Homo sapiens: one gene and its partner. The protein of the gene in region 2 interacts with the protein of the main gene of each other region in a pairwise test. Each region holds a gene or a part of one and is shown on either strand. Other genes may lie near its edges.

What was found.
Region 1: the proteins of BDKRB2 (region 2) and GRSF1 interact in a two-hybrid assay, tested with the Homo sapiens proteins (one study listed by IntAct).

What each region holds. Positions count from the first base shown.
Region 1 is NC_000004.12:70,807,752-70,822,890, forward strand, and holds the end of GRSF1 (G-rich sequence factor 1), read right to left. Parts: intron 13,111-15,139; 3' UTR 8,032-13,110; downstream 1-8,031. UniProt on the Homo sapiens protein: Regulator of post-transcriptional mitochondrial gene expression, required for assembly of the mitochondrial ribosome and for recruitment of mRNA and lncRNA. Binds RNAs containing the 14 base G-rich element.
Region 2 is NC_000014.9:96,197,130-96,212,390, reverse strand, and holds the start of BDKRB2 (B2 bradykinin receptor), read right to left. Parts: upstream 7,553-15,261; 5' UTR 7,432-7,552; intron 1-7,431. UniProt on the Homo sapiens protein: Receptor for bradykinin. It is associated with G proteins that activate a phosphatidylinositol-calcium second messenger system.

The DNA of each region.
Region 1 (15,139 bases), on a different chromosome or scaffold from region 2:
TGACTTCCACAGTGCCGAGATTACAGGCATGAGCCACCACACCTGGCCAAGTTTAATTTGTTCATGGCTGAGAACAGTTAGCTCGGAATACTTACATTGTTTTTTGAATAAGGAATTCCTTATTCTGAGTGAGTCACGAATGAGAGCTGATAGATGCTTTCTTGAAAAGGGCAATACAGTCATCCCTTGGTATCCATGGGGGATTGGTTCCAGGAACCCAACTTGATATCAGAATCCATGGGTGCTCAAGTCCCATTATAGAGAATGGGTTATATGGTATTTGCATATAACCTACATACATCCTCCTGTGTACTTTAAATCATCTGAAGATGATTACTTATACCTAATAAAATACCTACACATCACTTCATTTGCATGGATTCAACATAGTGCTTGGTGTTCAGTAAATTCAAGTTTTGCTTTTTTGGAACTTTGTGGAATTTTTCTTTTTCTGAATATTTTTGATTGGCAGTTGGTTGAAGCCATGGATGCAGAACCCATGGATATGGAGGGCTGACTGTACTTACTTACATATCTATCTATCTTTGAGTAACAAACTCTTTGGGGGAAAAGAGGGAAGTGTATTGAGCAAGAGAAGGCAAAAAACATTACATAATATTTTGATTCTGTTACGTGTGTCTATAGATTGTTTCATTCTAATCAAGACCTAAGAAGGTATGATTCTGTGACTGATTTAGAATTCTGGGGTGGAAATATCCTGGAACCATGTTTTTTAATAAATTCTGTCTCTTGGAAAGAGTTAACAACAGCCTGGGAAAGAGTTGTTATTCCAAAAGTCAGCCTGTTACTTGGTGAAGCTGAAGTTTAAGAGTTCTGGGGAAAAATAAAATCTAGTAATTCCAGCCTAGTTTGTTGATTGATGATTGTCTTTTTTTTTACCCTAAATAACAACATTTCTTTTTTGAATCTTCACTCTCATTTTTTGGCCACCTACATGAGCTAGCACTCTTTTAGGTGCTATACATGATGTGGGGCACAAAAATGGACTACAGGAGTGTTGCCCTAAATTAGAAAGTTATTTTATAACTAATTTTAAATTAATTTGAAAAGATCTTTGTAACACAATATAAGGAGGAACAGTCACTTGATACTTTACTTAGAATTACACATAAATATTAGCCTTAAAAAAATTTAGGCTGGGCGCGGTGGCTCACATCTGTAATCCCAGCACTTTGGGAGGCCAAGGCAGGCAGATCACGTGAGGTCAGGAGTTCGAGACCAACCCGGCCAATGTGGTGAAGCCCCATCTCCACTAAAATAAATTAACTAACTAACTAAATAAATAAGTAAATGCAAAAATTAGCCAGGTGTGGTGGTGTGCACCTGTAATCCCAGCTACTGGGGAGGCTGAAACAGGAGAATCATTTGAACCCAGGACGGAGGTTGCAGTGAGCCGAGATCACACCACTGCACTTCTGCCTGGGCAACAGAGTGAGATTCCATCTCAAAAAAAAAAAAAAAATTTACAACGTCCCAAAGATCTTTAGTTACAGTGCAGCCTCCCATAAAAGCAAGGAGACCAAGTCATGAATACCTTGACTTAATGGTATGCCTATCTGTCTTCCTTTACAATTGTGCTTTTCACCATTTACAATAGTATAAACTGAACCAAAGAGGCAAAGACTTGTACATTGAAAACTTCAAAATGTTGCCATACAAAATGAAGACATAAAAGTATGTTTTTCACCAGGCACGGTGGCCCGCACCTGTAATCCCAGCACTTTGGGAGGCCAAGAAAAAAAAGTATCATATTTTCATGGAGTCAAAGACTTAATAAATATTGTTAAGATGTCAATACTACCCAGAGTAATCTACAGATTCAATAGTCCCTATGAAAATCCCAACATTTCTGCAGAAATAGAAAAATCAATCCTAAAATTCATACAGAATGTCAAGAGACCCCCCCCCCCGATACTCAAAATAATCTTGAAAAAGAACAAAGTTGGAAGTCTTCACTTACTGATCTCAAAATTTAACACAAAACTACAGTAACCAACAGTATGGTACTGGCATAAAAATTAGCATATAAACCAATGGAATAGAATAAAGAGCCTAGAAGTAAATCTTTACACATATAGTCAGATTTTTGACAGGGGTGCCAAGACCATTCAGTGGAGAAAATAGGGTCCTTTCAACAAATGGTGTTGGGAAAACTGGATATCTACATACAAAAAAAAGTTGGACCCTTACACCATATACAAATATTAACTTAAAATCCATCAAGAACTAGCTCCATCCACTAAGGTTGGAAGAAAAAAGAGAGCTAGAATCATTAAACTCTTTAAAAAAGAAGAAAAAGAATTATTGGCCCCGTGTGGTGGTGCATGCCTGCAATCCCAGCACTTTGGGAGGCCGAGGCAGGTGTATCACCTGAGGTCAGGAGTTGGAGACCAGCCTGGCCAACATGGTGAAACCCCGTCTCTACTAAAAATACAAAAATTAGCCAGGTGTGGTGGTGGGCACCTGTAATCCCAGCTACTCAGGCGGCTGAGGCAGGAGAATTGCGTGAATGTGGGAGGCGGAGGTTGTAGTGAGCCGCGATTGCGCTATTGTACTCCAGCCTGAGCGACGGAGCAAGAAAAGACAGAAAAAAGCAGCCTGTCTTTTTTTTCAATCTCAAAAAGAAAAAAAAAAATGGAAAAGCTTCATGACATTGGATTTAGCAGTAATTTCCTGGGTATGACCAAAAGCACAGGCAACAAAAGGAAAAACAGATTGGACTTCAGCAAAATTAAAAATTTGTGCATCAAGGGACACTATCAGCAGAATGAAAAGGCAACCCAAGGAATGGGCGAAAACATTTGCAAATAAATCCTGCAACAATAAAAAGCCTGAAAAAAATGAGCAAAGTACTTGAATAGACACTTCTTGCAAAAAGATATAGAAATGTCCAATAAGTACAGAAAAGCTCAACATCAGTAATCACTGGGGAAGTGTACAAATCAAAACCACAATGAGATACCACTTTATAAACCTATTAAGGTGGCTATTATCAAAAAAGCAGAACAAGTGTTGACAAGGACATAGAGAAGCTGGAACCCATGTATACAGTTGGTGGGAATGTAAAATGGTACAGCAGTATGGTGATTTCTTAAAAAAGAAAAAAAAACAATTAGCATATATAATCCAGCAAATCCATTTCTGGGTATATACCCCAAAGAATTCAAAGCAGGAACTTATACAGATACTTGTACACCAGTGTTTACAGCCCTATTATTCAAAATAGCTGAAAGGTAGAGACAACCCAGGTATCCATCAATGGATGAATGGGTAAACAAAATTTGGTATATGCATACGATTGAATATTATTCAGCTTTAAGAACAAATTCTGACACATGCTACAACATAGATGAAACTTAAGGACATGATAAGTGAAATAAGCCAGTCATACATAGGACAAATATTGTATGACTCCATTTACACTAAGTACCTAGAATAGTCAAAGCATAAAGTAAAATGATGGTTCCCAGGGGCTTAAGGAAGAGCAGAATGGGGAGTCAGTGTTTAATAGGTACAGTTTGTGTTGGAGGAAGATGAAAAATTCTGGTGACAGATGGTGGTAATGGTTGCACAGCAATGTGAATGCACTTAATGCCACAGAAATGTACGCTTACAAATGGTTAAAACAGCAAGTTTTATGTATATTTTACTAGTTTAAAAAAAATTGTGTTTTCCGGAAGGATTCAGAAAGTAATTACAATTATGTGTGTCTATTTGGGTTATTACACAGGCATATATCTCTGTTCACTGAGAGGGCCTAGCAGCAGACATGCCAGCAGCAACGGGTACATCCAATGCCCAGATCTTGTTTTCTAATACCATTCTCCAAGAAAAGGAATCAGGGCTCCCTAGAGAAATGGCTGATTCTGGGTCTAGGGCATCTTGTAGTGCCAGAAAGTAAAGAAGTGTTCCACAAACAAGGATGTAGGCATGTGAAAGGGACACAGGAGCCAACTGATAGAATGCCCAATGGCCAAAGATGAAACAAATCTCAGCAACAAAGTAAATAATGCACCTTAGGATTATAACCCAAAGGATAAAGTAAGTACCCATGAGTCCATGTGTGTATATGACCTGATGGAGCGGTAGCATCTCTCCTATACAGAAAAAGCCCAAATAATTATGTAGATACCCCCCGCCCCTCACCACTTCAAGGAGATAGAGCTTAACTCTCCACCTTTCGAGTATGGATTGTGCTTAGTAACTTGCTTTAAGAGTACAATATGTAAAGAAGAAAAAAAATTTATAGTAACCTGGCAAACACTATCTTGGCCAGGTGATCAAAATTTGTATTAATATAATGAGTGATAAGCCCTATTAAAAATATGCACCCTTGATGTGATGAAAATGCCCCTTTGTGGTCTTCCTCCTAAGACCAGAAGGAAAACAATCAGAAAACCTCACCTTACGAACATTCTACAAAACCAGCTAGTACCCCTTAACACTGTCATGGTCATCAAAAACAAGTCTGGGATCCTTCTGTAGTTCATAAGCGTGACGACTGGGCTTTCACACTTCTGTGTGAGATGTGCCTCCTTCACACCTTGTTACATCAGGACATTACCCATCTGACGTGAAAAAAGTTAAAAAGGTTGGGAATCTGAAGTCATTAAAAACAAAAACATCTGAGGTGGTTAAAGAGACATAACTGAATGTAATTGTGGGATCCTGGAATGAAAATAATATTTGGAAAAAAACTAAAGATCTGAACTGTGGGATTTAGTTAATAGTAATGTATCAAATTTGGTTCCTTAGTTGTGACAAATATCCTGCAGTAATGTAGGATACTAACAATAGGTATACAGGTGGGTGAGGCGTATACAGGAACTCTGTACTCTTTTTGCAATGTCTCTGTAGATCTAAAACTTTGTTTTTTTTTTGAGATGGAGTGTCACTCTGTCGCCCAGGCTGGAGTGCAATGGCGCAATCTCGGCTCACTGCAACCTCTGCCTCCCGGGTTCGAGCAATTCTCCTGCCTCAGCCTCCTTAGTAGCTAGGATTACAGGCACGCATCACCATGCCCGGCTAATTTTTTGTATTTTTAGTAGAGATGGGGTGTCACCATGTTGGTCAGGGTGGTCTCAAACTCCTGACCTCATGATCCGCCCGACTCAGCCTCCCAAAGTGCTGGGATTACAGGTACGAGCCACCACACCCAGTGATCTAAAACTACTCTAAAATAAAGTTTATATATTAAAAAATTGTGCTTTCATACTCAAAGCAAGTATAGGTCTAACCCTATAGAACCTGACTGAACTCATCCCTAAATGCAGTTTGAGTTCTTACTTATTTCCAAATAGACTCCAAGTTTTGCAAGGTTGATAAGCAGATCGGAACTATGACAAAGTCCTTAGTTCATTCACTATAAGTCAAGTTATAAAAACATATGATGAAACTCTTAAAGGACATTTAACCATTCTGTGAAAGGAGGTTCTCCATTACAGCCTCATTTCAGCTTTGTTCACCAAAAAATGGGGGCGGTTTTTAAATAATTATATTTCAGTAGTTTAGTGGTCCTGTTTTGATTTACAGTAAAACTTCCTTCAAATTAACTTAGCCTAATATATTACCCAAAAAGTTATCCCAAGTCAAATCTTAATAATTCTTAGACAATAGCTGGTTTGGGAACTGTCATCGATGACAGGTCTCCCATGCTGGGAACAGATTAATTTTGATGTTAACACACTACTTTGGTATAAAGATTCTTGTAAGCATGCCAGTCAATATACCAAATCAGAAACCACGTATCTGACAAGCACAATTTCTACACCTAGAATAAGTGGCACAAACTTTAGTCAGTGAATTATCTTGAAATGTAAAATTAATTTAAAAATAGAACCAGTAGGCCAGGTGCAGTGGCTCACACCTGTAATCCCAGTACTTTGGCAGGCCGAGGCAGGCAGATCACTTGAGGCCAGGAGTTCGAGGCCAGTCATGTAGTGAAACCCCATCTTTACTAAAAGTACAAAAATTGGCTTGGCGTGGTGGCACATGCCTGTAATACCAGCTACTCGGGAGGCTGAGATAGGAGAATCGCTTGAACCCAGGAGGCAGAGGTTGCAGTGAGCCAAGATTGCGCTATTGCACTCCGACCTGGGCGACAGAGTGAGACCCTATATTTAAAAAAAAAAAAAATCCAGCAAGCGGTTGTAAGCATCACTGAGGATATCAGATCCCTAAGACTTAATTAAGCATGGAAAAGAAGAGGTAACTCAGGCTTCCAAAGGGCAAGGGCAAGTACAGTGAAAAAGCTGTACAAGTCTCCAGAAAGCAGTAATGACTTAGCATTCTGGATGCTGCTTTATGGCACAAAAGTATCATTCATGGAGTGAGCTGGTGGAAGGTAAAGTTAAGAAAAAATAAAGTATCATTCATATTCAATTACAACATCTATCACAAATACTATGTTCTTCTAGCATAACATTGCTCGTATTCCGCAATTTATTTTTGTCTTGCTGTTACCCAGGCTGGAGTGCAGTGGTGTAACCTGTGTGATCTCAGCTTCCACTTCCCAGGCTCCAGTGATACTCCCACCTCAGCCTCCTGAGTAGCTGGAACTACAGGCGTGAGCCACCATGGCTAGCTAGTTTTTGTATTTTTGGTAGAGATGGGTTTCACCATGTTGCCCAGGCTGGTCTCAAACTTCTAAGCTCAGGTGATCCACCTGCCCCGGCCTCCCAAAGTGCTAGAATTACAGGTGTGAGCCACCATGCTCAGCCCCATCTTGCTTTCTTGAGGAGGCAAGAAATGAATGAATCAACAGCCAGCCCATCAGAAACTGTTAATAACTTGTCTCCCTAGCTCTTGGTCTTTATTCCCAAATGTCTGCCATCTTCTGTCAAGCAGCAGCAGCAAAGGTTCAGAACCTCTTTATTTCCATCATAACCAGGTATTTTTGTTTGTTTTTGTTTTTGAGACGGAGTCTCACTCTGTTGCCCAGGATGGAGTGCAGTGGCGTGATCCCGGCTCACTGCAACCTCTGCCTCCCTGGTTCAAGCAATTCTCCTCAGCCTCCCAAGTAGCTGGGATTATAGGCATGCACTATCACACCCGGCTAACTTTTATATTTTTAGTACAGACAGGGTTTCACCATGTTGGCCAGGCTAGTCTCGAACTCCTGGCCTCAGGTGATTCGCCCACCTCGGCCTCCCAAAGTGCTGGGATTACAGGAATGAGCCACCAAGCCAGGCCATAACCAGGTATGTTTTCAAATCACAAGTCTTTGAATAAACTTGTTAAATTTTGCCTGTGGGCTTCAAATTAAGATTCTTAAACATATCTTGGTGATCCTTGTGACCTTCAATGAATCCATCCATATTCTAGAGTCTACTTTGGTTATACACCTTCATGCTTTATCCCCAAGTGCTTTCAGAACCATTTCACTAAGATGTTCTAATGCTGACATAAAACCTTGAAACTATAAAAGGGGAGATTTAAGAATTCAGCGATGTAAAAATAGTTTCTGCCATCATGAGCAAACAAAGAGGACAAACTGGGGGGAAAAGGTATTTAAAGCTCACTATAGGAACAAAGTACTCCTGCAGATTAGTTAAAAGACCAAAGCCAATAGAAAAGCGGTTAATAAACATCACACAAAGGCAATCAGCCAAACTCAGATTATGGAAACCTACAGGTTAATCTTATTTCTTCAGCAAATAAGAAAAAAATAAATGGATGGCAAAACATCCTGAATAAGAGAAGAAACAGACACTTCAACTTTACTAAAGATATCCAAATGGCTAGTAAGCTTATGAAAAAGTACTATTCATTGTCAGGGAATGCAAATTAAAACCAGAAGATACCACTACACAATGGCTAAAATTATAGACTGACAACAGCAAATGGTAAGGATATGGACCTACTAGAACTCTGGGAATGTAAACCAGGATAACCATTTAGGAAAAGGTTTGTCGTCTTCTAGTAAAATTTAAAATACATCAACTCAGGATAATCTCACTCCTAAATACTTATCCAAATTAAATTAAATTAAAATGTAGGTTCACAAAAAGGTTGTACATGTTCATACCAACTTTATTCATGATAGCCCCAAACTAGAAACAGCCCATTGTTCACCAGTTAGTTGTTCACCTAACAGGTGAAACGTTAAAATGTGGCATTCATACATAGAACACTGCTCAGCCATAAAAAGGAACAAAGCTTAAACACACTGATGAACATACAAACATGCTGAGTAAAAGGAACTTACAGAATACATACTGCATAAGTGAGTCCGTTATATGAAGTTCTAGAATAGGCAAAATTAATCTACAGTGAACAAAATCCTAACAGTAGCTGACTGCCAGGGGAGGGAAGAAGGGACAGGAGAGAGAGGTGCAGGAATTGACTAGGTGAAAAAATTCAGATGTAATACAGATGTTCCAGACATAGGGGTTTGAGTTACATGCTTTTACATCAAAACTCATCAAATGAGTCTGGGTATGGTGGCTCACACCTGTAATCCCAGCTACTCGGGAGGCTGAGGCAGGAGACTCCCTTGAACCCAGGAGGTGGAGGTTGCAGTGAGCCAAGACCAGGCCACTGCACTCTAGCCTGGGCGATACAAGACTCCATCTCAAAAAAAAAAAAAAAAAAAGAAAAAACCTCATCAAATGATACACTTAACATTTATTCACCTTACTGCAAATCTCCCTCAAAAAAACTCCAATGACGGCTGGGTGTGGTGGCTGATGCCTGTAATCCCAGCACTTTGGGAGGCCGAGGCAGGCAAATGACTGGAGGCCAGGAGTTCCAGACCAGCCTGGCCAACATGATGAAACCCCATCTCTACTAAAAATACAAAAATTAGTCAGGCGTGGTGGTGCACATCTGTAATCCCAGCTACTCGGGAATCTGAGGCATGAGAATTGCTTGAAACTGGGAGGTGGAGGCTGTAATGAGCTGGGATCACGTCACTATAACTCCAGCCTGGGTGACAGAGCGACTGTCTCAAACACAAAAAACAAAAACAAAAACAAATTCCCATGACATGTATGCTGAAAGGATTAAAAGTGAAAAATGTCTACAACTTACTTGGACATGCATATAGAAAAAAAGATGAGACTGCAGGAGGCAGGCTATGGGATAAAGCATGGCAAAATGCTGCTTGTACAATCTAAGGGATGGGTATTGGCATCACCAAGATTTTATATACTGACAGAAAATGATCTTTAGGGTGTTTAGGTGGGAGAAAAGCCAAAATACAAAATAGCATGTACAGTATAATTTATATTTTTAAAAGAAATGACAACACCCACTAACACTTGCTTATAAATAAAGTAAAAGTCACTGCAAGCTTACACTAGAAACTGATAACAGGGCTGTGCGAGAATAGAAACTAAACAGCTGAATTACAGGAGGGGAAGGAGAATCTTCACTACCGTTTGTATCTCTTCAAGTTTATTTCCTTCAAAAAATAAAATATAAACAACTTTAAAATGAGCCTGCTTTTTTTTTTTCTGAGACAGGGTCTCACTCTGTCACTCAGGCTGGAGTGCAGCAACAGTCATGGCTCACTGCAGGCTTGACTTCCCAGGCTCAAGCAGTCCTCCCACTTCAGCCTCACAAAGTGCGGGGATTACAGATGTCAGCCACCACACCTAGCCTATTCTTGATTTTCATATAATCAGGCTTAAGACAGATTAAACCTTCCTTCCTATACTTCCTTTCTAAAAATAAGAAAACCACTAGAACTAAAATTCTGGACAGAAAATCCAGACACCTCACCAATGATGATATAAGGATGGCAGATTAAGTATATGAAAAGGTGCTCCACATCACTATGGGATTGGGAATTAAAACGATGAGACCACTATTCACCCATTAGCTAAAATGCAAGAGTGACATCACCAAATACTAATGAGGGTGAGGAGCTACAGGAACTCTTATTCATTGTCAATGGGAATTCAAAATAGTCATGTTGGAACAGTTTGGCAGTTTCTTCCAAAACTAAACATACTCTTAACTTACAATCCAGCAACCTGGTTCCTTGGTATTTACCCAAAGGAGCTGAAAACGAGTCTACACAAAAACCTGCACATAAATGTTTATAGCAGCTTTATTCCCTTCCTACAAACTTCAGATTCTCTTCTAATTTGCTGAACTTGGGGAGTGGGAGGGTAATGTATTTCTAATGCGATAGCGCAATTTGGATTGGAACTCTACTGCTGACATACATACCATTCTCCTCTATACTATAGGTCCTACCAATTCAATGTGAGTGTCTTCCGATAATTTAGGGGAAACTCTCAGAACAATGGAGTTTTTTGTATTTTGGTTTTTTTGATTTTGACAGAGTCTCACTCTGTTGCCCAGGCTGGAGTGCAATGGTGTGATCTTGGCTCGCTACAACCTCTGCCTCCCAGGTTCAAGCGATTCTCCTGCCTTGGCCTCCCAAGTAACTGGGATTACAGGCGTGTGCCACACCTGGCTAATTTTTGCATTTTCAGTAGAGCCGGAGTTTCACTAAGTTGGCCAGGCTAATCTTGAACTCCTGACCTCAAGTGACCCACCATGGAGGGTTTTAAATTCTGAAACAAACAGGATGTAACCCCAAAAAATAACTTTCCAAATGAGAACTGAGTAAGGGCTGTTCAGGGCAGAGGACATTAACAAGGCATGTTGATTAATAAGCAGATTCATGGCACACAATGTTGCCTTCAAACTGGGTTCCTTATGCTTCCCCCTTCAAGTAACACAGAAGTAGTGAGAATTTGGAGCCTTCCTCCCAGGGAAGATTCGGTCCCCCTTCCCACATGACAGAAGCTTAAGTTACCCACGCATAAAGGGACACATACTCTATTTCTGCTTCATTGCCTGGTGTCAATATTTAGATGAGACCACAATATTCAGATGAGACCACAATATTCAGCAATCAGCTCCCTGGTATTTACATACTGCTTCTCAGAGTTCTCCCTTGCACTCCGTAAGCAGCAGCTAGGCTAAAGCAGGATATGAGCACCCTGACCATATGCCCCACTCCCACTATTCTTCCTGATGGCTTTACCACAAAGGAAGTTATAGACACAAGGAACCCAAACAGAAGGAAATTCACCATCACTGCTTCCTTCAATAGCAAAGAGTGATGCAAAACAGTCTTCTCAAATGTGGGGAGACGGTACCGTCTTCCACTTGCATGGAAATAAGATTACTTTTACTGTATTATGTGCTTCTCTTCCTTTCCCATAACTACATCCACCTTAGCAATCACTTACGTACTAGCCTAGATCATGAACAAAAACAAAAGGGAGCATTCAAATACATAAAATGATTTCCCAATAATGGCCACATTTTGTACAGAAAACTCAGCCTGTAGCGTGCCAAGAAGATATATCCTTTCAACCTTACCCATCCATCATATAGCATTTTAATGCTTTGCTTGCATTCTTTTTCCAGAGATGTGCAAATAAAACTCATTAGCTTAAATCAATTGCAGATGAATTCCTCACAGTAGGCCCCACAGATCTTTTCCACAGCAAATCAGATACCAAATGTGAAAGAGCAACAAAGATCACATTCTAATAGTTCGTACAACTACAGATACCAGTTCTCATAGCTTGGCATATTCAACCATATATGAAAACGCATTTCCATCTAGGCAGTACTACTGATGATGTTAAGCTGGTTAAGTCATGTTCACAGGATTTTAGAGAACACACACACGAAAATTAACCCTTACTACTTATATTAATATAGCAGGACTTGAGGTAATAATATATTCAGTTGACTCACAGACTCCAATAATAAATACTCTTAGGTAATCTTCAGCCTGAAACAAGTCTTCATTTATTGACTACAGTACAGTGATTTCGCATCTTAGCTGGTAATCAAAGATGGTTATGTATTAAGTAAGAGAAGACATAGTCTCTCTTCCAGGTATCACCTGTCAGAAACCTGGGCAAATTTAATTTTAAGAACTAGAACTGCATCTCCTGGTGGCAGTCGTCACCCTGAGAACAGGAACAAGGCAAAGAAAGCATACAGGATTTTGATTCTCCTACACAGGTGCACATAAAGTTAGTTTATTAATGACTATATTTTGAAGCCAGCCATTTTGTCCAATATTTAAATAACAAGCTGTTTAATATTAAAGCAGAAAGTACTGCCACATTGTGACAGAAGTACAGCTTTATCCATAAACCCTTCACACAATTATACATTAAATGCTATTTTTATTTAAGCAAGGCACCCCTACTTGTTCTAAAATATGGGATGTACTACTCCATTTAAAAAGCAAATGAGGAGACTGATTTTTTTCCTATCTAGAGCTGGTTTAAATTCAAGTGAAGCCATTAATTTTCTTACCAGTCTGGACTGTTCTGACATGTCACTTCACAGTTTTGAGACTAACAAACACCCTTAGGTCTACCCCAAACCAAAAAAAGCCAGGGAGGGACAGTTTAGACAACTTTTAAGTTAAGACTAGAATGCCCCCTTAAGTAGATAGGCACCACCGTTATACGCCTTTAGCACAAGGCTTAGAAAGGCAAAACATTTCTAAAGACATAAAACCGCCAAATTGTCATTTACACTAAGCTGTGGTATTTTTTGTTTTGATTTTTAAAAATTCCTATCTCTAAGTAATCAAATACAGCAAAATTTAAAACTATTCTGCCAAACCATACCAGTTCAAAGGTCTGAAACCGTTCTTTGCTTTGGTGAATGTTTGGTTAAAATAAATCACTGTTTCACTCCATGAGAAGTTTTACATCAGAGCACTCAATTCACAGGCAAAAAAAAAAAGTTACTTTTTAAATGAAACCGTTTAAAGAACACTGCTGAATAAAAATATGTGGTCTTTACAATGAGTAACATATCATCTATGAAAACAAACCATTTAATCATATAAAACAAAGACCATATTTTTAAATCAGATCCTGGACAGTTTAAACAAAAATTTTAATTTGTGGTTTATTTCATAATCCCAAACTGGATCTTTCATTTCTTCTTCTAAACAGTCCACTATGAAACTTTTCTTAGAAGCAATTAACCCAAAACACCAAAATCATTTCCCTAGCAGTTGCTGCTAATAAACTGGAACTGTATATCCCAAGTCCAAGAAAGATGTGCAAATGAAATGCTTCTTGCTTCACCCTAAAAATAAAACAAAAAATATTGTACATTTACTCAAGATGAAAAAGGATGGCACACATTCCCATACCATTTAAAATTGCAAATTCAAATTTTTCTCCTTTCTAATTTAGTGCAAGCTATCTGATAAACCGAGTTAAAGTGAGGAAAACTAGTCAGGCATTAGTGTTTACAGGCTGGTACAAAAAACTGAGTTTCAGAATATATTTTAAATAGATTTTAGCTATTATAAATATTTAACACCAAAGAATTGTGGGACTTCATATCCAAAAATAGCAACAGAAGAGGCCAGGCACGGTGGCTCACGCCTGTAATCCCAGCACTTTGGGAGGTTGAGGCGGGCAGATCAGCTGAGGTCAGGAGTTCGAGACCAACCCGGCCAACATAAAGAAACCCCGTCTCCACAAAAATAAAAAATTAGCCGGGTGTGGTGGCGCATGCCTGTAATCCCAGCTACTGGGGAGGCTGAGGCAGGAGAATCACTTGAACCCAGGAGGCAGAGGTTGCAGTGAGCTGAGACTGTGCCATTGCACTCCAACCTGGGCAACGAGAGAAACTCCGTCTCAAAAAATAAATAAATAAAAATAAAATACAAAACTTAGCCGGGCATGGTGGCATACGCCTGTAGCCCCAGCTACTTCATAGACTGAGGCAGGAGAATCGCTTGAACCCGGGGGGCGGAGGTTGCAGTAAGCGGAGATCACACCACTGCACTCCAGCCTGGGCGACAGAGAGAGACTCCGTCTCCCAAAAAAAAAAAAAAAGCAATAGAATAGGATATAGTAATAGAATGAATGTCCGTGTTTTTTTGTTCCTTTTTTTTTTTTTTTTTTGAGACAGAGTTTCGTTCTGTCATCCAGGCTGGTGGAGTGCAGTGGCACCATCTCAGTCACTGCAACCTCCGCCTCCCAGATTCATGTGATTCTCCTGCCTCAGCCTTCCCAGTAGCTGGAACTACAGACATGCACCACCACACCCAGCTAATTTTTGTATTTTTAGGAGAGACAGGGTTTCGCCATTTTGGCCAGGCTGGTCTCAAACTCCTGACCTCAGGTGATCTGCCTGCCTCAGCCTCCTGAAGTAATGGGATTACTGGAGTAACCCACCATGCCTGGCCCCATGTGTTTTCAAGAAATCATTACAGGTAAGTGTCTCAAAAGAATGAGCCATTACCTGTAGAAAAGTGACTGCAATACAACAGTAATACTTACAATACCTTATGGGAAAAAAAAAAGACACCATATATTTAATCGAGGCAAGGAACATCAAGATGTATTAAGCAAATCTCACGGGTAGGTTAACACTATAAAATTATGTACTTCCTAAGGCAAAAAAAAAATGCCATTTTAGGAAAAGGAAACAGTGGCACATTAACTGTGTTTATGGATGATACACTCTGGTTTCACATGGTATCCTTTTAAAAATACCTTAAAACAGAAAATGGCTGGGCGTGGTGGCTCACACCTGTAATCCCAGCACTTTGGGAGGCTGAGGCTAGCGGATCACTGGATGTCGGGAGTTTGAGACCAGCCTGGCCAACATGGTGAAACCCCGTCTCTACTAAATATACAAAAATTAGCTGGATGTGGTAGAGAATGCCTGTAATCCTAGCTACTTGGGAGGCTGAGGCAGAAGAATCACTTGAACCCGGGAGGCAGGGGTTGCAGTGAGCTGAGATTGTGCCACTGCACTTCACCCTGGGCAAAAAGAGTGAGATTTCATATCAAAAAAAAAAAAAAAAAAAAAACAAAAGTAACCTGAGAAAATGGAAAACGTGTTTAAATTTAAGTGGGGAAAAAAAGCTAATGCAAGTCACATATCCAGTCTATTACGATTTATAGCTACTAAAGGTGGCTATTTTTTGGCAAACAGCATGATGTTGGAAATTATGCATAAAAATTCTATATGGAGATAATGCTCAAAGCTACCATATAAATCATAAGGAATTATGGCTGGGAGCAGTGGCTCACTCCTGTAATCCCAGCACTTTGGGAAGCCAAGGCAGGTAAATCACTTGAGGCCAGGAGTTAGT
Region 2 (15,261 bases):
GGTTTAATAATTTAAAAATTTAAAGGCATGACTCATCCCCTGACTATGGCTTTGGCTGCATCCCATAAGTTTGGTAAGCAGTGTTCTTATAGTTAGTTGTTTCTCAAATATCTATAATTTCAGTTTTGATGATCTGTCTCTTTGATGTAACAGTGTTTTCTAAAATTTTCAAGTAGTTTATTTCTATTCAAGTTTGTTTTGCTTTTTATATTTAAATTTTTGCAAAGAGATATGCATCCTCATGGTAACATTTCAGAGTGCGAAAAAGAATACAGTGAGGGGTAGGTCTCCCTCCAGATTCTGTCCCTGCCTGTTGCCTCAAGAGACAGCCAGGCTCACTGGTGTCTCCTGTTGCTTTCCAGACATCTTCTGAGCTTTCAGGAGCAGATGTGCACATATCCATGTATAAGGACGCCTGCAGAAGCACCCTAAATGCACCGCCGGCTGTGTCCTCACCTCTTTGCATTTAACAATCTGTCGACCCACCTTGCTTTTCAATAGCCTCACAGTATTTCAGAGTAGGACTGCCCTGTAATGCACCGGCCTTCGCAGGGAGTTCCCAGTTTTCGTAGGTAGTTTGCAATTCTACTACTATTTATAGCTGAAGGAACCGAAGGATCCCAGAGACCACATCTCTTGCCCTAGGTCACACAGCAGGGGAGGAATGGGGTGGGATTCAATCCCTGTGCCTGGCTTCCGAAAAAGGAGGAGCGGGAGGAGGAGGGAGAAGGGAAGTGGGTGGAGAGAGGAATCATCTTCACAGAGTCCATCTCCCCAATGTGCTACAGTTCATTTGAGGAGTCCCCCCAGGTTTTCACTACTTTTGGCTATCACAAATGATCAGCACAGATCCCTCATCTGCAGGCCCTGGCCCACGTGTGAGCACACCTGTAGCAGGTGTGCAGACCCTCTCCTGCCTCCCCTGACCTGTTCTTGTGTTCTAGCCATTGCTTTCTGGATCTTTCTGTTCAAAGAAGACCAAGAGGTCCTTCTCTCACCTCTCACTTTGCTAACCGGCCAGTGGGCTCCAGAGTGGGGGTGATGTACCCCAGGTGCAGCAGCGCATGCACAAGGTGCAATCTCCGAGGCTCCGGGAGAACCCCAGAGAGCCTCCCTCTGTGGTCAGGGAGTGACCCCTGCACTCTTAGAGCACAGCAGGTGCCAAGCATGAGTGGGTGCTAGGGGCTGAGGGAAAGGCCCAGTCTTTTCCCTCGAGAGGATTCCTGTTTGGTAGGGATGGCGGGGCACAGCCTGATGCTTCCCGAAATGTTTGGGCCCAAATCTACCTTGAAAGGAGCTGGCTGTGAGCTGTGTGCATTTAACAATCTGTCCATTTAAATTTTTGTGGAGATGGGCAGTTTGCTAATAACTTGGATCGGGGAGGGTTTCTGTCCTTTCCTGAGGCAGCAGGCACATGAGCACAGGTGCCAGAGAGTGAAGAACAGGTTTGGGGTCCCCAAGTTTTTTGGCTGGTGGGACTAGGAGGAAGGGCCTGAGGAGAGTGGCTTTTGGGTCCAGGACAGACCATTTGCTAAGGTAGCTTGTTTCAAAGTGTGGCTGAAATCCCCTGAGATATTAGCAAGTCCTTGAGTACTGTAAAGGAAAACAGAAATCTTGGGACCCCCAAACTCTTTATGCCAAAGGGAAAGTTAAGCCTGGAGACTGAGTCAGCCAACATTGTCATCCTTATTCCTAATGACAGCTGTTACTCCACAACCTTAGACATTAGCCAGACCCCCACAGAAAGGAAAAGGCCTCGGATATCTCCCCATGACTGCCCCCACAAATTGTTCTTTGCTGGGTGAAACCTTTCAAGATGTGGATCTTACCACAAAACAAGGACACATCAATTGTAACTTGAGGTCTGCAATCCAAGCCTAGCTCCTCACACTCAAGTCTGTTAGAGTCACGCTGATGGTGCTGATCTCCCCAGGTACAGCATAAAAGCAAGACAAAGGCAAGATGAGATCAGGCCTCCTTCTGCCTAACCTCCTCTTCCTACATGCTTTCTCCACTTCAAGGACATGTGTAAATACTGTGAAAGAAAAATAAAATTAAAATCCCCAGACCCCAAACGCACTAAGCCAAAGGGAAAAGTCTAGCTGGGAGCTGGGTCATGCAACCCGCCTCCCGTTTTGTGTCTAAATGGATAACTATTTACTTCCCTCACATTTTGCTCACAGTGAAATTCCTTGTGGGCCCCAGGATCTTTGCCTTCAAGCAGCTCTGTTGTATTTCACCCTCATGATATAAATTAACAGCTTAGCTTCACAGGTATGGAACAAAGGATAGAACCCAAAGTCATCCCTCTGCTCACCTGAGACGAGTGCATAGCTGACAGCTTCCTATATGCTATGATGATGATGATGATGATTATTATTATTATTATTATTTTGAGATAGAGTCTTGCTCTGTCACCCAGCCTGGAGTGCAGTGGTGTGATCTCAGCTCCCTGCAACCTCTGCCTCCTGAGTTCAAATGATTCTCCTGCCTCAGCTTCCCAAGTAGCTAGGACTACAGGCATGCACCACCGTGCCTGGCTAGTTTTTGTATTTTTAGTAGAGACAGGGTTTCACCATGTTGGACAGGCTGGTCTCGAACTCTTGACCTCAGGTGATCCACACAACTTGGCCTCCCAAGCTGCTGGGATTACAGTTGTGAGCTACCGTGCCCAGCCCTATGATTATTTTATCTTATATAAAAATGCAGATTGACTGAGCACCAGGTGAATGCGGAATTGATGATTCCTCCACCTGCTTCTTTCACATGAAAAATGTGCATTCAGTGAAGTTAATGAAAAGGCTCAAAGGGGTGCAACTGCTTGCCTCTTTTGGCCACCTTCCCCCGATTTTTCCTTCTTTCCCCTACTGCCTGCTTTTTTCCCTTTGAATAGTGAAGACCCTTCTTTGAAAGAAGCATGGGCCAGAGATGTTTCCTGTGATTTCGTGTCCCTCTTTCCTGGGTGCATCCTTAATCTTGGCAAAATAAACTTCAAAAATAATTGAGACCTGCTTCAGTCAGTTTCTCTTTGATTTACAACACTAAGTCTCATGACTCTTCGGAGAGCATAGGCCACACACATTTTCTGTGGCTCATGTTTTTCCCAGGTGCACCCTCAAACTCTCGATAAATGTCAATTGAAGTTTATCAACTCGATGAACCTTGATTGATTGAGATTTGCCGCAGTCTGTCATTTCAGTGAATAGTACCCAGACTTCAAATCACAGTCCCCAGAGCAGGACCCCCGCACCTGCGTGGGTGACCAGTCTCCAGGTGATTCTAAAGTATGACAAATTTTGGTCTTTCTCCGGCAGACCACCCTGCCACTGGAGTGTGACCACTTAGGAAACCCGCAGGGAAGAGGAGAAGCGACCTCATGACCATGATAAGAACCACAGAAGCGACGGGGCTGTGCTGGAGCCTGGCACTGTACAGGTCACAACACCCCACGGGCGTCCCCTCAGGCACTGCTCATTTCCAGATGTCACTCAGCTGGGCCACTTCTCTGTGCCCCACGACTGCCCTTCACCGGTGGCACAGATCAGAGAGGCTCAGAGGGGTTGGCAGTGAATGGGATGGGACAGGCCGGAGTAAATCTAAAGTTTGAGCCCTGAAGAGAAGCGTGAGAAGGACTCTTGCTGTCAGTGCCCACAGGCTCATTGCCTGGACACAGGAGTGTGTGCATGTCGGACAGGGCTTTTTTCTGGACACCCTTAAGCGGCCATGGCCTTACTGCAAAGCAAATGCAACCTCTGTGACCGCCCCAGGCCCTCACTCCTGCCTCCATAGACAGTCCGTCTGGTACCTGAGCTCCTGCAGTGTGCCTGACATCCCCTTTCACTACATCAGCACAAACAGAGGTAAGCCTCCTAGTGGTCCTCAAAAATAGGAATGATGCTCCCCATTGTACAGGAGAAGAAACTGAGGCTCAGATAACTTTCCTGGCCAGTAAGTGACGGTGAATTCGAACCGAGAGCTGTTTGTTCCACCGTGCTTTCTGCTGTGATGACTTTTTTGGAATGTGTGTGGGGAGGGGGAGGCACATATGTTTCCAGCCTCCAGAATCTTCCAGAACCCACTGTGATGAAAGAGTCAAAGAAATACTTCATGCCTTACGTTTGTTCTAGAAAACAACCCTGGAGTGGGTGTTTTGGGGAAGCAGAGCCTTAGGTCCCCAGGAAAACCAGAGGAGCTCAGAGGAGGAATTGAGGATTTAACACTTTTCAAGGGGGGCAGATTTAGTAGCTGTGGATATTTAGCTCAGAGAGAAGCAATAGGACTAGAATGGTACAAACCCCAAGGAAATGAAAGTGGACCCATTGCTCAGTGGGGGCAGTTGGAGGAAGAGCTTTTAAACAGTAGAACTCTCCTAAGATGGAATGCGCTGCCTCGCAAAGTAGTGAGCTCCCCATTCTTGGAGGCATGCACACTAAGATGGATATTCATGAGGCAGGGGATTCCTGGACCCAATGGATGTCAGAAGTGATGCATTTGGGGTGTCAAGTCTTGGCAGGTCTGATTGTTTGACTCATGACCCTGAGGTACCGTAATTGTCCTAAGTGCCTTCTGAATCCTCAAAACAACATGCAGATCTGCTCTGTGTGCCTTTTTTTTTTTAAAGAGCAGTTTTAGATTCACAGCAAAATTGAGCAGAAAGTACGGAGACTTACCATATATCCCCTGTGCCTACACATACGTAGCCTCCCCCGTTACTGACATCCCCCACAAGAGCAGTCAATTTGTTGTAATTGATGAACCTGCGTTGACACATCATCATCACCCAAAGTCCATAGTTTTCATCAGGGTTCACTCTTGGTGATGGACATTCTGTGGGTTTGCACAAACGCACAATGACATGCCTCTACCATTACAGTGTCATACAGAAGTTTCACTGCCCTAAAAGTCTCTGGGCTCCTCCCATTCTCTCCTCCCTCCCCTAATTCCTGGCAACCACTGATTTTTTTTATTTTTTACTGTCTTCATAGTTTTGCCTTTTTCCAGAATGTCACATATAGTTGAAATCATACAGCATATGCCTTTTCAGAGTAGCTTCATTCACTTAGTGATAGGTTCTGTATGCTTTTTTATTGCCTGCTATATGAGCAATATTTATTTATTCATTTAACCATTCAGCATTTCAGCAAACACTGATCCATCCATGTTGGGCTAGGCATCGTTTTCAGTGCAGAGGAGGCAGCTTGAGCGGATAGACAAGGCCCCTACTTTCATTCTGAAAACCAGAGTCCCCCGGTGCTATGATCCAAATGCCTGTGTCCCTCCAAAATTCACCTGTTGAGACTTAATCTCCAAGCTGGTGATATTAAAAGGTGAGACTTCTGGGGGGAGATTAGATCATGAGGTCCCCCTCCTTGTGAATGGGATTGGTGGTCTTTAAAGGAGGCCTGGGAGAGCGTGTTCACCCTTCCACCATATGAGGATGCATAGAAGGTGCCATCTATGACGACTAGGTCCTCACCAGACACCCAATCTGCCAGTGCCTTGATCTCGGGCTTCCCAGCCTCCAGCACCGAGAGCAATAAATGTCTGTTTTTTGATAAATTACCCAGTCTAAAGTATTTCTTATAGCAGCTCAAACAGGCTATGACACTGGGCAAATCTGCAGGGCTCCCCCCACCGCGCCCAGGTGGGCCCCTCCCTGACCACAAGCAGCACAGGTGAGGAGGCCGCCCTAATGTTACCTCTGGAGCCACCAAACTTGTTACTGAGCCAGTCACTGTGTTAGCAAAAACCACGTGGCACAGCTATTCGGTTGGTGCAAAAGTCATTGCGGTTTTTGGCATTACTTCTAATGGCAAGAACCGAGATGACTTTTGCACCAACCTAATATTTCCAGGTTGGGTCCCACCGGCAGGCAAATACCACTTTCAAAGTCCTCAGATCCATCATGCAGGCCCAACCATGGGAACCTCCCCGTTTGCAAGGGAGGGAATCCCAAAGAGATTGAGGCATTTCCCTGGACACTGAGCGAAGGGCTGGCTGAGGTCATGTTCCCCCTCTGAGACTCAGTTTCCTCATCAGTGCAGTGAGAGGCTTGGAGTGCAGGGTTGCAGGGAGAGCTGGGATGAGGCCTGGGGTGCTGCCTGTGGGGACAGCACGCATGCTTCCTCTTTTTCATCCAAAGACGCCTTCTCTTGGCTGTCCCCTGCTCTCACCCCAAGCAGGGGAAACAGCAAATGCTTCCTCCAAGCTTGTGGGGCTCACAACTGTGGAATGTCTCTTGCTGCTGCCAGGGCCCGAAGGACGCAGCACAGTTTTTTCTCCAGAGAACCTCGGGCAGGGCCTCTTTGCAATGTCCTCTGGGGTTGCTTACCTGTTCCCCCACCACCTAAGCCCTTCTCCAACTCAGAAATGGAATTAGGGGCGGGGTTGGCCAGGGAGGCCCCCATCACCCCACACCCAGGCCAGGGCTCCCACTTCCTGTAGGCTGGGGAGCCACAGGCGGCCTGTGACTCAGTGAGGCACATTCTGACCTGCCTGGAACAGCAACACCTGCTGTTCACCTCCACCCAGGCTGCGGAAACGACCTACTCTCAGCAACTCGAATCACGGCTGCCATTTATTTAGTGCCTATGACATACGTGGTGCTTCACAGGCAAGAGCCTACCTCTATCTTTGCATAAAGAGGAACTTCCAGGTCTTCTTTATAGCTCAGGAGACAGGACAAAATAACTCGCCCAAAAACGTCACCCACAGGGTGAGAGCAGGGCTGGAGCTGCAACCTGGGCCGGATGCAAAGCCGGTGCTTGGAACCCCTGCACCATCCTATCCCCCTGCCCTGGTCAGCCAGGACCGTGGGAAGAGGGTCTCTAAGCCCATCTGAGGTAGTCACTACCACCTGCCTCCTGGAGGCGCATCAGCCAACATTCACAAACCCCCCCACCCCCGCCTGCTTCTGATTTAACCCTGCCACCCCCAGGGAGCCAGCGAGCTGGCTGCTTTGCAGACAGAGAAACTGAGGCTCAGAGAGGTTGAATAGCTTGTCCAGGGTCACACAGGGCCAAGGAGTGGCACAGCTGTGGGTGAAAAGCCAGGTTCTGGAGCCTCCACCCAGCACCCGTCCCTGCTGCACCACACACACCTCGCTGCCTTACTCCAAGGTGTCCACTCAAAGTATGTGAAAATCCAATCACGAAATCCCTCACACACTGGACACACACAAGCCTGTCTGTCACCTTGATTCAGAGAAGAGAAACCTACAACAGACAAACAGGGCGATTCCTCCTGCTGGGAACCCTTCTCCCCATCGCCTGTCAGACCTCCCCTCCGGAAGGAAGGGAACTTTTCCCAACTCCCCACGACCACAGGGAAACTTCTCCCCGCTGCCTGCCCTCCCTCCCTCCCTCTGTGCTGGGACAGTTTGTCCTCCCAGCAGAGGTGAGGCGGCTGGAGCAGCCCCTGCCCGGCACCCACCTTCTCCGGAGCAAGCGGCATGGGCACTTCAGTCGCTCCCTGGTACTGCGGGGCAGCCTGATGTCCCCACCGTCCCCACCGTCCCCACCCCTCCTCGGAGCCCAGAAGCCAGAGCTGGAGTGGCGGCGGGAACAGCTCATCTTTCAAGGGCTGGGTAGTGATGTCATCAGCCTCCTGGGCACTTCCCCCTCCGCCTCCAGCTGAGCTCTGCACTCCTGCCCAGCTGGAGCCAGGCTGGCTGTGGGGCCGGGAAGGCTGCGGCCACCTTCGCTCTCCGCTCTGCCACCCTCTGAGCCCTGGGGGCCAGGGAGGCTCTTGGAAGATTTCCATGTTTGCGTAGCCCGGCTGCCCGTTGGAGTCGTGGGACGGCAAAAACGTCCCTCCCGGCTGACCACAAAGTGGCCTGGGAAGCCCCATGTGAATAAATTTGCCTCGCGTAACATTTATTTCTTATCATTATTTATCTTCTTGAGGTGGTTATTTTGTGTCTGAGTTTTGGATGTAAACAGTGGGCGTTTACGCGGAAGGTGTAAACAGAGGGTGGCCAGGTGGGCAGGCGGAGTCCTGGGATTTCTTTGTATGCCACGTACGGCTCCCAAGGGCGACAGTGGCAGAAGCTGTCCTGTTTCCTGGGTACGGGTGTTTGCGCTCCCCTGAGACACGCGGCCGTTTCTTCGGAGATGTATGGCGGAGGTTTCTCCCATGTCAAGGCTCAGGCTGGCTTTCTCAGTTTTGCTCAAAGACTTACTAACTATCTGCAGCACTTTACACTCCCAGGGCTGAGACGGTAGGAGCTGGAAAGGGCAGGGACTTTCAAAACATTTTTTTTTGAAGCCTTAAAACCCTTCCTTCAGAAGAGAACAGATAAGAGTGGGCCCAGTGGATCTGGGGAAGAGACAGGAGGGCCAGAGGACGTCCCCCCAGCCCATCAGCTCCTCTTCCCTGTGACTTGATTCATAACAAGCCTACAAACCAGCAATCAAGCCTGATCCCATCATCATGGAGACAGGGAAACAGAGTCTCAGATCAGTTTATGGGTGGCCTGGGCGCTAGCCCTGGCTTGGCTGTGAACTGGCTGTAGGCTCTTGAGTGAAGGCCCTCCCTGGCCTGGCTGTGTGGTTGACTCATCTGTGCACCTGGCTGTTCAACCACATTGGGGCTCCTTAATCTGGAGTTTCCTGACTTGCCAGTTGGGGACAGAGGTCTATGGACAGGCTGCCCAGAGTCCACAAGCCCTCTGAAAAGGTGTGTCTGTGCTTTATCCCCTATGGAGCCTCATCTATAGCTTTCACTAAAATATTGAAGAGCTCTGAGATCCACAACATATTGAGACCTGCATGAGCGTCCAGAGACCCTCTGAAGTCTCTTCCAACTTAGATATTGTAGAGCTCTGTATCTATGAGTTGAAAATCCTCAAGGATCTGAATCCAATGTTGATGCTTCTGTAAATATCATTGACAGAAATCTCTAAAAGACATCTGTCCATCTGCACACATCTCCATCCATCTCTGTCATATAGTTTTTTAAAAAGGCTACTTTAAACCAGTTTTGAGGTCCTGGCTGGAGGCCAGCCAGTTCATGAGCAGCTGATTAAGTTCACATTCTGGCCCTTTCTCTTACCAGGTTCTCACACTCTGGGCCACTAGCCACCTGCCCTGATGGCCTTGGAGCCAGGTACCAAACAATAATGGACAGCTCCCATCATCTGGAACTCACAAACTTATTTAAGTTAGCCAATCCATAGGGAGCCAAGGAAACCTCGTTAACACCACCCTACGTGCCACACATAGCTGCCGCCTATAGCTCCAGCTTGCTTGGACCCTGTCCCCAGTTGCACATCCTGTGTGGCCCAGCCTGACAGCCTCTCATTTGGAGCTGTAAGAAACAAAAGTTCTACCTTTCATTTATCTGAGTGTCACTGTGTTGTGTCCTGCCATCAAAAGAATATTTTAATCTTATAAAACAATTACACACTCTTCCATTCATCTACACTGGTATCTACCCACACATCCGCCCACCTGCCTATCCACCTATCCAACCATTCATTTACTTATTCGCCTGTCTGTCTGTCCATCCGTCTATCCATCCAACCATCCATCCATCCATCCATCTGTCCGTCCATCCGTCCATCCATCCATCCGTCTGTCTGTCCATCCATCAGTCCATCCCTCCCTCTCTCACTGCCTCCCTCCCTCCCTCCCTCCATCCATCCACCCACACACTCATTTATCAGATACCCACATAGCCAGGCAGTGCATTGTCAAGCAGAAGTGAATGAATCAGTCATCCCCATGCCTCAGACATCCCCGTGCCTCGGAGGAGTTTACCCTGAGGCCAGTCCCCTGCCTATGGGCAGAGCCAGGCGGAGGATTTCAAAGTGTTCCTTGAGGACTCAGTAGCACCCAGTTTATGTCTGGAGTGGCACACTTTTGTACTGCATTTTTGCTATGAGAAGGTTTGTCTCAACGCCCCTGCAAAGTCCCTGCAGCGGCAGCCTCATCACACTCCTCACCACTCAGTCTCCTTGGCTGGGGTCTGCAGGGGGTGGCTCAGCCCTGTAAAGCCTCCAGGTTCGAGTCAGCCCAACTGCGTTCAGCAAGGACCACAGGAGGGATCCAGTTATTTTGGCAAAACCCTGCCCCACTAAGCAGGGCTCTTTCACATGGCACGATAAGAAGCTGTTCCTCCTGCTGTCTCCTCCCCGGCCACTGCAGCCTCCCCAGCCACGGCCAGCCCTCTGTACTTTAGCCCCACAGACCCCCCTCGCACTCCTGAGTGGGGCAGGATTGCACTTGACCCGGGGCCTTTGATGTGGCAATCTCTGCCTGAAATGCCCTTTCTCGCCCTCGCTTGAATCAAGCCTGCTCTTCTCTTGGGAGGCTGCCTGGGGGCCTTTCCTGAAGCCCCTGGTCTTGTCCGCACCTCTTGCATGCCTGTTTTCTAACACACCCCGGAACTGTTCTTGGTGGTCTGAGAACACCACGAGGCAAGGACCCCGTCTTACTTATTGCTATTTATCACCCGGCACATAGGAGGTGCCCTCTGCAAGGAGTACAAGCAGTCTATAGGGAAAAGTGCCCAGATCCAACCTTACTGGGATGAAGGAAAGACCAGGCCAAACAGAACAGCATAAAAGCGGGCTGTAGACATGTGTGTACATGTTTGTTTATGAAAGTCCACCCTCCACCCCAATGTTCCAGATCTTTCTCTCCACATGTCTGTGTGTAAGGCACAGGTCCTCCCGGGAAGGCCATTATTCTATTCGTCGGCCTCCAGGAGCGGGCTGTGCTTTTGTCCAGAATGCCACAGTGCTGACCAGAAAGGCACTCCCTGGTCCTCTGTGAATCAGCAGCCGCCCTGCAAAAGGCTGACCAGTTACACACAGGTCAGACAGACCAGCAGGGAAACTGGAAAGCAGGGTCAGAGGATAAGTGCTGATTTGGGTTCATGGCAAAACCCATGCAGAGCCTGTAGTTTTGCCTGATTGGCACTAACACTCACAGCTAAGAACTCTAGAGAGCCTCTGCGTCCCCAATGCGCCTCCCAGCCCATGTGCCCATGCGTGCCATCTCTGGCCTGCCTTCTCTGCCTCTGGCCTCCCTTCCCAGAGGCCTCCTGCACAGCCTGTGGGGGCACTGTCCTCTGGCACAGGCATGAGCCCCCCAGCCCTAGCCCCGCATGGCGACTCGCTGCCAAGTGATCTCTGTAGCAGGCCCTACGTAAGCACACGACCCTTCACAACAGCCTGATGAGATGGTTACCAGTCAGTATCCCCATTTTACAGATGGAGAATCAGAGGCTGAGAGGAGTTACTTAACTTGGCCTAAATCCTGCACAGTGGAAACAGCAGAGCCAAGAGCTGAGTCCAAGTCTGACTCCATCGGCATGTCTTCCCCTTCCCCAAATGAAAATGCAGCTTTTTAAAAAAGCTGGTCATGGCTGGGTGCAGTGGCTCGCGCCTGTAATCCCAGCACTTTGGGAGGCCGAGGCAGGCGGATCATCTGAGGTCAGGAGTTCGAGATCAGCCTGGCCAACATAGCAAAACCCCGTCTCTACTAAAAAATACAAAAATGAGCCAGGCATGGTGGCACACATCTGTAATGCCAGTTACTCAGGAGGCTGAGGCAGGAGAATCACTTGAACCTGGGAGGTGGAGGTTGCAGTAAGCCGAAATTGCACCACTGCAGTCTCGCCTGGGCAACAGAGTGAGACTCTGTCTCAAAAAACAAAAAAAACAAAAAAAAACAGCTGATCATATACATAATATGGATGTATTGTTTCTCTATTATTTGAACTTAATGTGTATGATAAAAAGTGAAAATCAACTGAAAAGTGTACAGCTTGGAGATGATTAAGAATTTGATGCCAGCTGGGCGCGGTGGCTCACGCCTGTAGTCCCAGCACTTTGGAAGTCCAGGCGGGTGGATCACTTGAGGTCAGGGGTTTGAGACCAGCCTGGCCAACATGGTAAAACCCTGTCTCTACTAAAAAATACAAAATTAGCCAGGTGTGGTGGCAGGAGCCTGTAATCCCAGCTACTTGGGAGGCTGAGGCAGAAGAATCCCTTGAACCCAGGAGGCGGATGTTGCAGTGAGCCGAGATTGCGCCACTGCACTTCAGCCTGAGTGACAGAATGAAACTGTGTCTCAAATTAAAAAAAAAAAAAAAAAAAGAATTTGATGCCATGTTTCTGTGTGTTTACATATATTCATTATATAGTGTTATATATGTCCGTACTTCAATATATCCCACTTTACATGAACAGGATCATATTATGTATGCTGTTGTTGTAAGCGGAATTCCGCCCCCCCCTTTATTTTTTTTTGAGACGGAGTCTCGCTCTGTCCCCCAGGCTGGAGTGCGGTGACACGATCTCGGCTCACTGCAAGCTCCGCCTCCCGGGTTCAAGCGATTCTCCTGCCTCAGCCTCCCGAGTAGCTGGGACTACAGGTGCCCGCCACCATGCCCAGCTAATTTTTTGTATTTTTAGTAGAGACGGGGTTTCTCCGTGGTAGCCGGGATGGTCTCGATCTCCTGACCTCGTGATCCGCCCTCCTCAGCCTCCCGAAGTGCTGGGATTACAGGCGTGAGCCACTGCGCCCGGCCGAATTTCCCCCTTTTGTATTGCTGTTTCTTCTTGCACAGCTCCGCCTCCAGCCACCATCCTTTCCTTAGCATTCACGGAAACGTATGACAGGCAGGCCAACTACAGAATTTGTGGGACTCCGTACAAAGTGAAAAATGGGCCCATTCCTCAAAAAGCAGGAAAGAAGTGTTGGTAAAGGTATTAAGCCATAAGGCTTTTTCCTTTCTTCTGTGGTCTCTCTTTTGACTTGTCATGACAAGTGTTCTTTTTTGTTGTTGTTGTTGTTTTGTTATTTTGAGACCAAGTCTCACTCTGTTGCTCCCCCAGGCTGGAGGGCAGTGGTGTGGTGTGATCTTGGCTCACTGTAACCTCCACCTCCCGGGTTCAAGCAAATCTCTTGCCTCAGCCTCCCGAGTAGCTGGAATTACAAGTGTGTGCCACCATGCCCAGCTAATTTTTGTATTTTTGGTAGAGATGAGGTTTCACCCTGTTGGCCAGGCTGGTCTCAAACTCCTGACCTCAAGTGATCTCCCTGCCTTCAGCCTCCCAAAATGCTGGGATTGCAGGAGTGAGCCACTGCTCCTGGCCTGTCATGGTGTTTTTAAAATTTGCTGTTTAATGTTGTTCTAAGTATAGAAAAATTAAAACGTTAAATTATTAGCATGCATTTACCATTCACCTTGAGAGTATAGAAAAATTAAAACGTTAAATTATTAGCATGCATTTACCATTCACCTTGATATCACTCAATGCCAGTTATAAGCACAAAAACCAGTGCATTTAGCTCTTATTTAAAACCACCAGAATTGTGCCTATTTCACAGCTTGCAGAAACACTGCAGAAAACAAGCTCATCTGTTTTCCTTTCACTTCTTGGTATGTGCACGTTTCATCAGCACTCTCTACCTTCCTCTCACAGGGAGTGGGGGGACTCAAAGGAGCAGGAACTCTGGGGCCCTGCCCTCCCCTTTTCGGTGGGTGTGGTTGGCCAATGTAGGGAAACAACACCAGTAAGGAAGGATGTGACCGGGTCTCTTGCCTTGGTATCTGTTAGAACGCCGCTGCCTTCTTTCTGCCTTTGAAGCAAGTCCTGGTTTGAATGGAAAGCGTGGCCTCTGGATGGAACGCCTTGGACTCACTTTGAGTGTCTCTGAACCGGGCACCACTGCTTCCAGCAGAGAGACTTGGAGTGACGAGACTCTGGAGAAGTGAGCCCTACCCTCCACCTCTGGGGGTTGCTGGGCAAACAAGGGAGAGAGGGAATGCCCAGTTCCTCACCCAGGGCTTGGCAGGGACTTCCCCAACTCAGAGACTTTTCTCCACTCTAACACTTAAGAAATTGAAGTGGGTAGATTTAATCTGCAATTATTCTTTCCCTTGAAAGCTGGTGTCTTATAAATAGAGGTCCTTAGTGTTAAGAAAATATGCAAAGTCCTCTGAAGGGTTTATGAAATGCGTTTGGAAGAAATAAACGCTTAAAGCAAGCAAAGTCCTGGCTATTCCTGGTGCAAAAACCTCCAGAAGTGAGATGGAGAGGGACCTGAGGTGGGGGCAAGGTGAAGAAGAGGCCAGTCCTTCCTCTGTCCGTCTATCCCTCTGCTGCCCTGGGAGGTGACGGTGGGTTCCCAGGTTTGGCGGGAAGTAGCCCTCAGCCTGGCAGTCGGCCTGGCCACTCTTCCTAATTCTATCCTTGGCAGCGGGGCTGTCGTCTGCAGGTCTGGAGAGGCAGTTACTCACTTCCTGGTGCTGGGACGTCCGCCTGGGGGATTCTGAGGCAGGGGCAGTGGGGCTGGTTCCTCCCCTCGCTTCCTGGAATTCCTCAGACCCCTCTTCTGGGACTGACAGCTGAGCCAGAGTCCCAGGCTGCCCGCTCGGCCTGCCCATAGAATAGCCCTCCCCACCCTTATCTGCCCTCCATATCCCAAGTTCAGGTTCCAGCCTATTGGCCACCAGAGGTGGCACAAGGGGCCTTTGCCTCCGAGAAGACACAGGAGTGGGGGTTGGCACCTGGCAGGAGCCCTCCATGATCTAGCCATGTCCACCTGGTCCGCCTGTCTACCAATCAGCTCCTTCACCTGACCAGGCCTCCAGTCCCCTGGGGCCCTGTTCTTGGCTCACACTGTGCTTGGCGTGTGCTGTTCCTCCCCTGGACTCCCTTCCTCACAGCGCTGCAGACCCAGTCCCATTGCTCTCCAGCCCCGCACGATGTGCCTGCTCCCGAAGCCCGCGTTCCCTCTGAGCCGCTTTGTCACAGCCTCTTACTGTCGGTCTGTGCCTTCCCAAGTGACCCATGACTTGTCTTCCTTCAAGGCCCTGGGCCAGGGACCTCCTGTCCTCTGATCACTTGTCACCAGGGTGGCTGTAACCCCCCGGTCCACCCATGCCCTTTATAACACAGAGACAGCACCTGCTGCACGGCTTGTGAAAATTAGATGAGACGATTGCTACAAGGCAAGCAGCAGAGCGGCAGGCCTGCGGCAAGGACTGCACAAGACAGCCACGGACCTCGCCTTCAAGCCCAGCGCCGCCACTCACAACCCACACAAGCCTGGGCAGGAGCCCCAGGCTCCTCACCAGTAGAATGGAAGTATTAATATGAACAGGTCCATCACAGGGCTACTGGGATGGCCAGGTGGGAATCTGCGTAAAGCCCAGTCCTCACTGGATTACTCCTCTCTTCTTGGCAGTGGCCACAAGCACCCCTTCTTTTCCTCCCTTTTGAAAAAATCAAGGCGAAACTCACAT